3 linked regions of the Homo sapiens genome follow. The protein of the gene in region 1 interacts with the protein of each later gene in a biochemical or structural test. Each region holds a gene or a part of one and is shown on either strand. Other genes may lie near its edges.

Evidence for each region.
Region 2: the proteins of MTA1 (region 1) and BCL11A form a complex in vitro, tested with the Homo sapiens proteins (one study listed by BioGRID).
Region 3: the proteins of MTA1 (region 1) and LMO4 form a complex in vitro, tested with the Homo sapiens proteins (one study listed by BioGRID).

Annotation. Positions count from the first base shown.
Region 1 is NC_000014.9:105,461,234-105,464,886, forward strand, and holds part of MTA1 (metastasis-associated protein MTA1), read left to right. Parts: intron 1-1,950; coding exon 1,951-2,025; intron 2,026-2,259; coding exon 2,260-2,318; intron 2,319-2,798; coding exon 2,799-2,914; intron 2,915-3,182; coding exon 3,183-3,334; intron 3,335-3,440; coding exon 3,441-3,630; intron 3,631-3,653. UniProt on the Homo sapiens protein: Transcriptional coregulator which can act as both a transcriptional corepressor and coactivator. Acts as a component of the histone deacetylase NuRD complex which participates in the remodeling of chromatin.
Region 2 is NC_000002.12:60,456,640-60,459,753, forward strand, and holds the end of BCL11A (BCL11 transcription factor A), read right to left. Parts: 3' UTR 555-3,114; downstream 1-554. UniProt on the Homo sapiens protein: Transcription factor. Associated with the BAF SWI/SNF chromatin remodeling complex. Binds to the 5'-TGACCA-3' sequence motif in regulatory regions of target genes, including a distal promoter of the HBG1 hemoglobin subunit gamma-1 gene.
Region 3 is NC_000001.11:87,342,237-87,345,889, forward strand, and holds part of LMO4 (LIM domain transcription factor LMO4), read left to right. Parts: intron 1-2,551; coding exon 2,552-2,560; 3' UTR 2,561-3,653. UniProt on the Homo sapiens protein: Transcription cofactor. Plays a role in establishing motor neuron identity, in concert with MNX1, acting, at least in part, to disrupt LDB1-LHX3 complexes thereby negatively modulating interneuron genes in motor neurons.

The sequences.
Region 1 (3,653 bases):
GTGACGGAGGCCAGGGTATCCTCACGGAGACTTTCCCTTCCTTGCTGCCCCCTCCAGCCCCAGGCTTGGTTTTGCTTTGTTTTTGACTAAGCTGAACCTCTTGACTCCTCATGTCCTTGTTTTCTGTCTCACGTGAGTTTAGCCCAGCAGCAGGCCTAGAGAGTCTTCATGGCGTGGGGTCTCCCTTCCCTGTACCTCCACCTCAGGACCCCCACCCTCCAACCGTCAGCCCTCCTAAAATACTTCTAAATTAATCTGTTAGAAGAGCATCCCTATGTGGGGGTGGTGGGGCCCCCAACCATCAGCCCTGGGGAGGTGGAGACTGTGGCAGGGCAGGGAGGAGCCCCAAAGGGGCCGGGACACAGCGGGGTGGCTAGTATCTGATGAAAGCACCATCCGGGCAGCAGCGCACAGGCCAGCGCAGCAGAGGCTGGAGACGCATCTGGAATTCGGAAGAAACAAACATGGGGTTGGGTAGGGTGCCTAGACCTGAAGAGGAGGAGGGACAGCAGCCAGCTGTGAGGCTCCTGAGGACGCATCTGCTGGGGGCAGGAGTGCAGCTTTGTGTGGGGGCCTCTGGCCAAGGGGAGAGCTTGGCCGGGCGGGAGGAGTCCCTGACTGTCCCTGGGGCCAGCGGCCTCTCCAAGGCGGATACGGATCTCTCCAGGCTTAAAAACAAACCAAGATGAGCAGAACATGTTCAGACAAGAGGACGAGGGCTAGAAACAAAATTCACCAACTAGGCTCAGACCAGGGCGGAATTTGAGGGAGACCCTGCTGCACATGGTTCCAGCGGAGGAGACCCCAGTGCTGAGCCCACGTGATGCCTAGCGAGGCAGCGCTCAGGGGACTGCGGCTGCGGGGCCATGCCCAGGCACGGTCTCGGGGGGCTGCGGCTGCGGGGCCCTGTCCAGGTGCGGGGATGGGAGGCTGCAGCTTCGGGGCTGTGTCGAGGGAGCAGGCCCCGCTCTCCTTCCTGCCAGATGCAGTGGACCAGACTGAGGAACTATCTGAACCCTTATTTAATAAGACAGGTTTCTTAAATCCATGCCACAGCCCGGGCGCAGTGGCTCATGCCTGTAATCCTAGCACTTTGGGAGGCCGAGGCAGGAGGATCATGAGGTCAGGAGATCAAGACCATCCTGGCCAACATGGTGAAACGCCATGTCTACTAAAAATACAAAAATTAGTCGGGCATGGTGGCAGGCTCCTGTAGTCCCAGCTACTCGGGAGACAGAGGCAGGAGAATCACTTGAACCCCCGGGGGTGGAAGTTGCTGTGAGCCGAGATCGCACCACTGCACTCCAGCCTGGGCGACAGTGCGAGACTCTGTCTCAAAAACAAAAATGGCTGAGATGGCCGGGCATGGTGGCTTATGCCTATAATCCCATTTGGGAGGCCGAAGTGGGTGGACCACTTGAGGTCAGGAGTTCGAGACCGGCCTGGCCAACATGGTGAAACCACGTCTGTACTAAAAATACAAAAATTAGCCGGGTGTGTTGAGAGGTGCCTGTAGTCCCAGCTACTCAGGAGACAGAGGCAGGAGAATTGCTTGAACCCGGGAGGCAGAGGTTGCAGCGAGCCGAGATTGTACTACTGCACTCCAGCCTGGGTGACAGAGCGAGACTCCGTCTCAAAAACAAACAAAAAAAAGGCTGAGATGGAGGCTGGGTTGTCAGTGCCACCTCGGCAAGATCTCGACCTTGACCTTGTGCCAGCTCCTCTTCCCCTGGCGTCACTGTGTTTTGGCATCTGGCGGGGGGACCTGCTTCATCAGCTGCCCTCTGCACCTGCCTGCCAGCAGGGGCCTGGCCTCCGTGCACCAAGCACACCTCGCCCTCTGGCCTCCCGCCCCCTCTGTGGCCTTCTGGCCGCAGCCCTGCCCCTGCCTGCATGGTGTGCCTGCCTCCTGCCCCTTCCTGCTTGTGTGACACGCCTCCTCCCACCCAGCTCCCGTGGAAGTCGCTGACCAGCATCATTGAGTACTACTACATGTGGAAGACCACCGACAGATACGTGCAGCAGGTGAGCCCGCCCGCCACTCAGTGCCCGGGGTGTGCCGCCTCCCCGTCCTGCGCCCCATCCTCTCCCAGCAGGTGGGCGTGCACTGCTGCAGCAGGAGGGGAAGGAAGACTCCTGAGTCCCTGGCCCGGCTGTCCTCTCCGTGGTGCTCTCCTCTCCGTAGCCTCCAGCCTGTCTGCACTGCAGCCCCAACCTGGGCCTAGCCTGCTGACCTCTGACCTTCTCTTTTGTTTTAAGAAACGCTTGAAAGCAGCTGAAGCTGAGAGCAAGTTAAAGCAAGTTTATATTCCCAACTAGTAAGTGTGCCCTCACAGCCGTCGTCCTCGTGGCCCCGGGGGCCAGGGAGGGTGGGCACAGGGTGCTGGGGCCAGGCGGGTCCCAAGGAAACTCAAGCTCAGAGGCTGGGAAAGTTGGGGCAGCCCCCGGGAGGGCGGCCCAGGGCTGGGGGGTTCTGGCTGCAGACGCAGTGGCCATGTCTCTGTCGTCCTGGCCTCCTGGTCAGTAAGGGGGCATTGGGATTCCAGCCCACACCGCCAGGGTTCAGTCCCTGAGCTGGGCTCCATGCTAGGGGGAGCACGGGGGCCTGGAGAACGGCTCAGACCTCAGCAGTGGCTCCCAGGAACTGAAAGGGGAGAAAGGAAGATCCCTGCCGAGGCCGAGGGGTGCGAGGACGTGGTTCTGGACAAGGGGTGGTCAGCCGCGGTGCCTGCTGGGCACATGGGCCCTCGAGGTTTGTGCTCCTGCAACTCCTCTCGTCTCTCCTTTCCCTCTTTAAGTAACAAGCCAAATCCGAACCAAATCAGCGTCAACAACGTCAAGGCCGGTGTGGTGAACGGCACGGGGGCGCCGGGCCAGAGCCCTGGGGCTGGCCGGGCCTGCGAGAGCTGTTACAGTAAGTGCCCTGGATGGCCGGGGGCACACCGCACGCCCGCCTGTGGGCCGTGGTGCCTGCGTTGGCCCTGAGGGCTCCAGCATGGCCCAGCCTGCAAGGGGCCCACTGACGATGGGGGCTGCGTCCCAGGGGTGTGGTTGGGAGAGCCTCGGGGAACGTGTGGGGGTGCCTGGCGGGTGGGGGCGGCCGGCGTGGGGGTGGCGGGGAATACTCTGACATCGCTGGTTCTGCTTAAGAATCCGTCTATTTCCAACTTTGTTGTCCGTAGCCACACAGTCTTACCAGTGGTATTCTTGGGGTCCCCCTAACATGCAGTGTCGTCTCTGCGCATCTTGTTGGACATATTGGAAGAAATATGGTGGCTTGAAAATGCCAACCCGGTTAGATGGAGAGAGGCCAGGACCAAACCGCAGTAACATGGTAAGGGGGGGGACACCCGCCCTGCCTGCCATGAGCCTGTCGGCCACGCGGGTCCTCGGCCCCCGGTCATGGCGCTGTGTTGGGGCGGTTGCGCCCCCTTCCGCAGAGTCCCCACGGCCTCCCAGCCCGGAGCAGCGGGAGCCCCAAGTTTGCCATGAAGACCAGGCAGGCTTTCTATCTGCACACGACGAAGCTGACGCGGATCGCCCGGCGCCTGTGCCGTGAGATCCTGCGCCCGTGGCACGCTGCGCGGCACCCCTACCTGCCCATCAACAGCGCGGCCATCAAGGCCGAGTGTGAGTCACCCCAACGCCCCGCT
Region 2 (3,114 bases), on another chromosome or scaffold:
AACAAAACAAAACAAAACAAAACCTGATGCCTTTGTTTCCAGATTTTTAGATTTCAAAAGTGGGGTTATTTTGTTATGAGAAAAGACTCTTACATGGAAACCAAAGAGCTGATTTTTTTTAAAAAAATCTTTTTTACATTATGTTCTAAGATAAAGCAAGGATGGGAGAATAGAAAAGAACTTTTAGACAACAAGAACAGCAAAAAATTTAAAGGAAATAAAAGTTTAAGATGCTATTACCAGCAAGTTTTTTCACTTATGTTTGAATGGATTTCTGCTAAGAGATGGAGTAAGTTTTTAACATCAGACTGAAAACACCTTCCATTTCTTGAAAACTATTCTAAACTGGAAAGCCTTAAAACTATGTCCAGGGTTTGAGATATGTCTATTTTAATATAGTAAGTACTTTATGTTCCTTTAGGGTATAATACACGCATCAGAATGCCCATAGAAATAATCCTGAAAAAGACTGACTGGCCTTCTCTTAAAACCTGTTATTTTCTTGCAAGTAATTTACAGAGTGTGTCAAATGAGGACACAAGAAGCTTACAATGTGTACTTTAATTTTTTTTATTTTTTCAATAAAGGGACAAAATGGGTGTATGAACAGGTTAATGCAGACAACTGCCAAAAAAACACAGACAGTGGTTTTTCCAATAGAACTTAACAAAGACCAGAAACAAATACAATAAAAAGCCAGGTTGTAATGACCTTTGGTCATCTAAATAAAAAAAAAAATAAAAACAAAGAAAAATAAAAGATCAAATTAAGTGCCTCTGTTTTGAACAGGGCACATAAGCAATAATAAATAGTGACTCCCATAGTAAAAGATAAAATTTCAAGTTACGACAAACAGCTTTCATTACAGGAATAGAAAAGGCCAATAACAAAATATTCTGCATTGCCATTTACAAAAAAGTATTGACTAAAGCGGGCTTTCTCTTTAATATGCTTTGCATATGAAATTCTTTCCAATCTAAATATAAAGCACCATTTAGTTTTTGGCAATGAAAAAAACTGCAAAACATTGGTTTTTTTTTTTTTTTCCTTTTTTTTTCTTTCTTTCTTTTACTGCATATGAAGGTAAGATGCTGGAATGTAGGGTGATAGAAGGAAAGGGACAAAAAGCACACTACATAACAAACCAACGTTATTAGCTTGCAGTACTGCATACAGTATGGCAGCAGGAAAAAGGAACAAAAAAGGATATGTACAACCCCTATGACAGCCATCCATGTGACATTCTAGCAGGCTCCCCCAAACCGCCATTATATGGCTTCTCATCTGTAATGTCACACTTTTTTGTTTCTCTCTTTTTTTTTTTTTTGAAGCATACAAATAATTTGCACTATATTATCCTGCCAAATTAAAAAAATATACTGTGGCAGCCTGTCTTTTTTTTTTCCACTACCAAAAAAGGTACATTGATACCTTTTAAGAGAACAAGCAACAGTTAAAAATACAAGCTTCAATATAAATACTATAGTGCCTAACACTAGATGAACATTTAATTCAAATACCATTCTAGAAATACAGAAAAAAGACCATAAATGTATTTTAGCATAGGAATCAACATGAGTGTGCATTTTCCTATATTTAAGTACTATATAATCTTAAACCTTTCCCCAATGTATGTTTTTTTTTTTTACAACCTGAAGAGCGGTGTGTATCCAAGGCATAGAATTTCCACTACCATTTTTAAATGGATAACAAGTCTTGTAACACCACCAAGACAATGGAACCCTAAAATGCAGTTCCCCCCTAAACATAATGAAGTGTTTTTTAAAAAAAATTTTTCTTAACATTTATATTTAAAAAAGTTTTGTACAAAAAAATCCTTGCACTGTAGAAGCGAAAGCAATCATTCATTTCTATGTTAAGTGTATTCTGTTTCCATTCACAGCGCTTGCAATGTTGCGTCCAAGTAAGTAAGCTCAATAGTCAAGTAAATGGCTGGCAAAGTTTTTTTTTTTTTAGTTTTTAAAAAATGCTCCTCAATGAGATTGTGTTCAATTTTTTTTCAGCATTCTTGCAACTTTTCCCTTAAGTATAGACCTGTAAACTGGGAAAATTGTACAGTGCACTTAATTGTCCTATCTGAGCAGGTTTATTTTATACTCAACCTCTGTATCTCTGATTAGAGAAAAGATACAGATATCACAGGCAGAGTCAAGTGCTATTTGAACACCAACTGGGGCAGATGCTAGCTTAATAAAAAAGAAAAAATTAAAAAAATAAAAATAAAAACAATGAATCCTCTTCCATGTTAACACAAATAGCACACAGTGTATGGAAAAGAAATGAAGTACAACTTTTAGGGAGCACAGACATATATACTGCTACTCTTAAAATTCTTTCTCTTCTTTTTTTAAGAATGTCACATTTAAATGCAAGTCTTAAGAATTCATAGTTAATCATCATTGTATCAATATTAGCTTATATACCTGTTCTAGTTTTAAATGGCAAATAGTACCACGTTGTGCTAATAAATCATATTATTTTCTTCTGTTCCCCTCTGTCAAACCTTATTGTCAGCCTCTTCCTTTCAATATGGTATACAAGGTCTTAAAGTTTATCATTTGATTGTCCACTTGACAACCAAGTAGATCTGGATCTATTTCTTTTGGTGCCAGTATTTTTAAAAAGACATTATTAAAGCAAATATCTTCATAAAATGAACTCCTTACTAGTGTATTTAATTGCGTTCCAGGGCTTTTGCACATTACACATTCAATTTAATCATTGTTTAAAAAAAATAAAACTTTGGGCAAAACAGCCCATTTCTTTTAAGCTCTCACCAGGAGCAAAGTAGCTTTTATACTGGTATAATCAGTTTTGTTTATAAAATTAAACTAAAGGAAAAATGATGATTAACTAGGACATAATGGGTCATCTTTTTAGGTAGCCATTGTTGTGAGAAATACAATATAGAATTATATGCTAGTTCCTAAGGTTTATTACCTCACCCAATGCTGAATTAAGCTACAAGTTTATAACAAGTAGAAAGAACCATCGATGTGGTTTTAATAGATCCAAGGCACTCATATTTTAAAACCAAATGATAGAATAAACTTGTTCTGTTTTTCTGTTAATTTGTCAATTCAAGGCCTTTTT
Region 3 (3,653 bases), on another chromosome or scaffold:
CAATAGCAGTGTTAGGTAGGGACCAAGTATAAAGCACACCTAAGAAATATGAGCAGGATTTCATACCATCTTTTATAGTATAAGATGGCATAAATTTAGAGGTGTTAGGGAGGAGAACTGCAGAAAAACCAGGTTTACCTGTTGATGAGATTACATGTCTTATGCCTTTCATTGAAATCTGTTTTCCACACCTTTTCCAGGATGGCAGTGGTAGGGTATTCATTTTGGAACACTATATTTTAGGCAATGAATAAGAACCTATTAGTGTATGTTTTCTTAATGTTGGAGGCCAAAAAAGAGACAGGTGGCCTTCAAAAATTAATAGCTCTTAAAAGGCATAAGGAAATACAACTTATGGAAATGTTCTTGTCAGACATTGGTGAGAAGCTGTGTTTTGGGGGTGCTGTTAATTAAGAACATTTCCCTGTTGGCGTAAGTGTCTCACATTTTTGCCCTTGGTGCCCAGCTCACCATGAGCACGGTCAATTCACAAGGTAGTTTTTATAAATAAAGGTTTTGGGCAAGCTGAACGTGGTCCAGAGAGATATTAATGAGAGGGCAAGGGGGAAGAGTTAATGAAAACATACTTCCTGGTGGAACATAAACTGCTTTTTGGAACTGGAGAGGCTTTAAAATTATTTTCCCAAAACCCTGTGGCGTTTCTTTTCTGGAGGCAATGAGATGGGGAGAAATGACAAATGGCTTCGTTTTATTATTTTCTCCTCTCTCGTTCTCCATATTTTTGGTAGGGAAAATTGGACATTTATTTTGGCCATTTTCCTTCTATTCGCAGAATCAATTACATTTTTGGTGTATTATGCGTGGTAAATATACTCAAGGATCCTCTGGCTTAAAAGCAATGAGTTGATTATTCGAACATCCCTTCTTTAAAGGCAGTTAATTGCATGGAAAACATAGGCCCCCATTGTCTGGTCCCTTTAAACTTTTATTCTGAGATTTGTTCCCAGGGTCTGGGCTGTGTAGTGTAGTTGTTGTTCTGCATCATTGGCTGTTGTATATTCCAAGAAAAATAATTTTAAGCTTTTAAATCATACAGTGATTGAAATCTTGCATTTCAGATGGACTGAAATCTCAGGCCACTAGTGTTCAAGGATCTACAACATTTTATAACCTATATCACTTAAAGGAGGCTTGGCTAGCTTTGGGAGAATGCTGCCTTCTAGAGGGTTATGTAAATCAGGAATTGTGGCTAATTTTTTCTTTTGTAGATTGCTGCCTGTTCTGGAATTTTTTTCTTCCACTCAAAAGTGTGATGGTGCCATCTAGAATTACCTGTGCTTTTCAGTTTTCAGTGGAACAGGAGTTAGATCACATCTCTTTAGTTGGAGGAAAATTTAGTGAGTGTTCTAGTCTACATGTCACTTCGCAGTTCCCCCATAGTTACATAATTGGTGTTGTGTGTGTCCATCGTAGAAGACATTTGATGCTCATTTATTAAATATGCTTGCTGGCTGCTGCTGCATCTTTGTTCTGGACAGACAAATTACCTTTCTCACACTGAGCTTCCACTCTGGGGAATTAAGCCTTCACCACTTTAATTAGCTTGGAAGTAGGGGGTTGCAGTTCCTAATAGACTACAGGCTTTTTGTAAGTTAGGGAAAGGGTGAAACGAGAACTTCCTGGGAGGCTCAAAATGTCATTTAAAAACCATAACAACCTAATATGTATTATTTCATTTTGGTAATTGCAAACAGATTGTATTTGACAAGTGTGTGGATTTCCATTTCTGACTTAGACATTGAAGCCACCCTTGCATTGAACTATGTTCTTTTATCTATCACAGGTCATTAACACATTGCATGTATTGAATCACATATTTGTGTAGCTATTAAGTGACATAGCAGATAAGAAATAGTGAAAAATATGTGAATATTTGTACATAGAAATTTTCATATAGACACACACCTATAGGTAGTACCAATATGGGTGAATATTTTTCACATGGGGATATCGGAATAATAATGATAACTGCCAGTATTTGTTGAACTTTTATTAAGGGCCAAGCACTGTTGAAAGTGCTCCCATATGTATTATGTAATTATCATAACAGTGTCATTATCCCTTCTTTAAAGATGAGGAAACTGAGACACAAGCAGTTTAAGCAACATTCCAAAAGGTTACACGGTTAAGCATATGAACCCAAAACTTCCTAGGTAGGAACTTGTCTTGGAATGTCCCCGCTATTTAAAAAATTCAAGATCCCACTGCTGGGCAAGATGTTACATTCCTTTTGGAAAGACACTTGCTCTTAACAGAGTTAAGCAATTAATTGTAGTACTTTACACCAGAAACTTTCTGAGCGTCCATTTACTGTCTCATTTTCTTTGCTAGTAAAACTGCAGAAAATGTTATGCTTTAGTTCTTCACTGCCAGAGTAAGTAGCATAGAAAGCCTCTATCAAGTCACAGTTGGAAAGTAATCTAATAAAAGAAGATTAGTGAATGTGGGGAAGACAAAAGCAGTCATGTTTGAGTTTAATATCTCTCAAATTTAGCATTTTAGCTAAGATGCCCGTTTTTATTTCTTGCAGGTCTGCTAAAAGGTCAGAGTAATGCAGAATGCGTGCCTTCATCTCAGATTTGTTCATCACAGGTGGATCCCATGTGTCTTCAGTAGACAAGTCACCTTTGTAGCTAGCACCAGTGCCAGCTCCATGCCATTGCACCTTCTTTAGTCTTGATTGCCCTTCCCGCATTTATTGGTGTATTAAAATGACTGAATATGAACATTAAGGACTCCATGAACCTGGGCTAATGGGAGACTGTAGAGAAAATGAAAAAAGATCCACCAGAGGACATCTTGGGGAGGGGGAGGGAGCTGGGGGGGAGGGAAATGACTAATGAAGCTAATTAAAAGAAGCATTCAAATCTGCTTTCTACCCTCATTAACAATTAGCAGGGCACTGGCCAGAGTTTGTACCCTGTGTTTTACCTTAACAACATTCTATTTGCTCTTTGTATATTTAAGTGTTGTAAGGAAACGTGTTTCAATCAAAACTGACCATGAGATAAAGGAAAGAGATGTGGCTTTTGTGATATTCTATCACAAACACTTATTGTATCTCTGTAAAATACAATGTATGTATGCATGTAAGTGTTTTTGTCCTAATGTTGCTACTCCCATGGCAAAGAAAAAAAAAAGAATGAAAAAAAGAAAAAAATTTGGAAAAAAAAATCAGGCTCATAGCAGCTACTGTGTAGAAAATTCCCCCTACTTCTAATTTGCTGAATGAAGAAAAAAAAAAATCTTTTATTTGTGATATTTTCAGAGACATTTGCTCTAGTATGGTGTATTTAAATAATAAAAACTTAAAAGAAAAAATATTTAATGGTGTTTGGGTTTAAACACTGCTTTTTCTCTTCTGTATTTTGAAGAAATTTAGTTTTTATTGTTGTTGAATAACAAGCTCACTTTAAATTTGAAGGAGTTGAGGGAGGTGGAGTGTATATTTATTTAGCTCTGGGCCAGTAAGGTATTCTTCAAATTACTTAACCACGCCATTATTGGCAGGGGTACAAAGTAGTTTCTAACAGGGTCCTTTCTATAAGTCAAGAATATTCTGTTAACAGCATTTCGTTACACTTCTATATCACAGTAAGTCTTTTGTGTTTATAAATACTTGAGTGTCCACT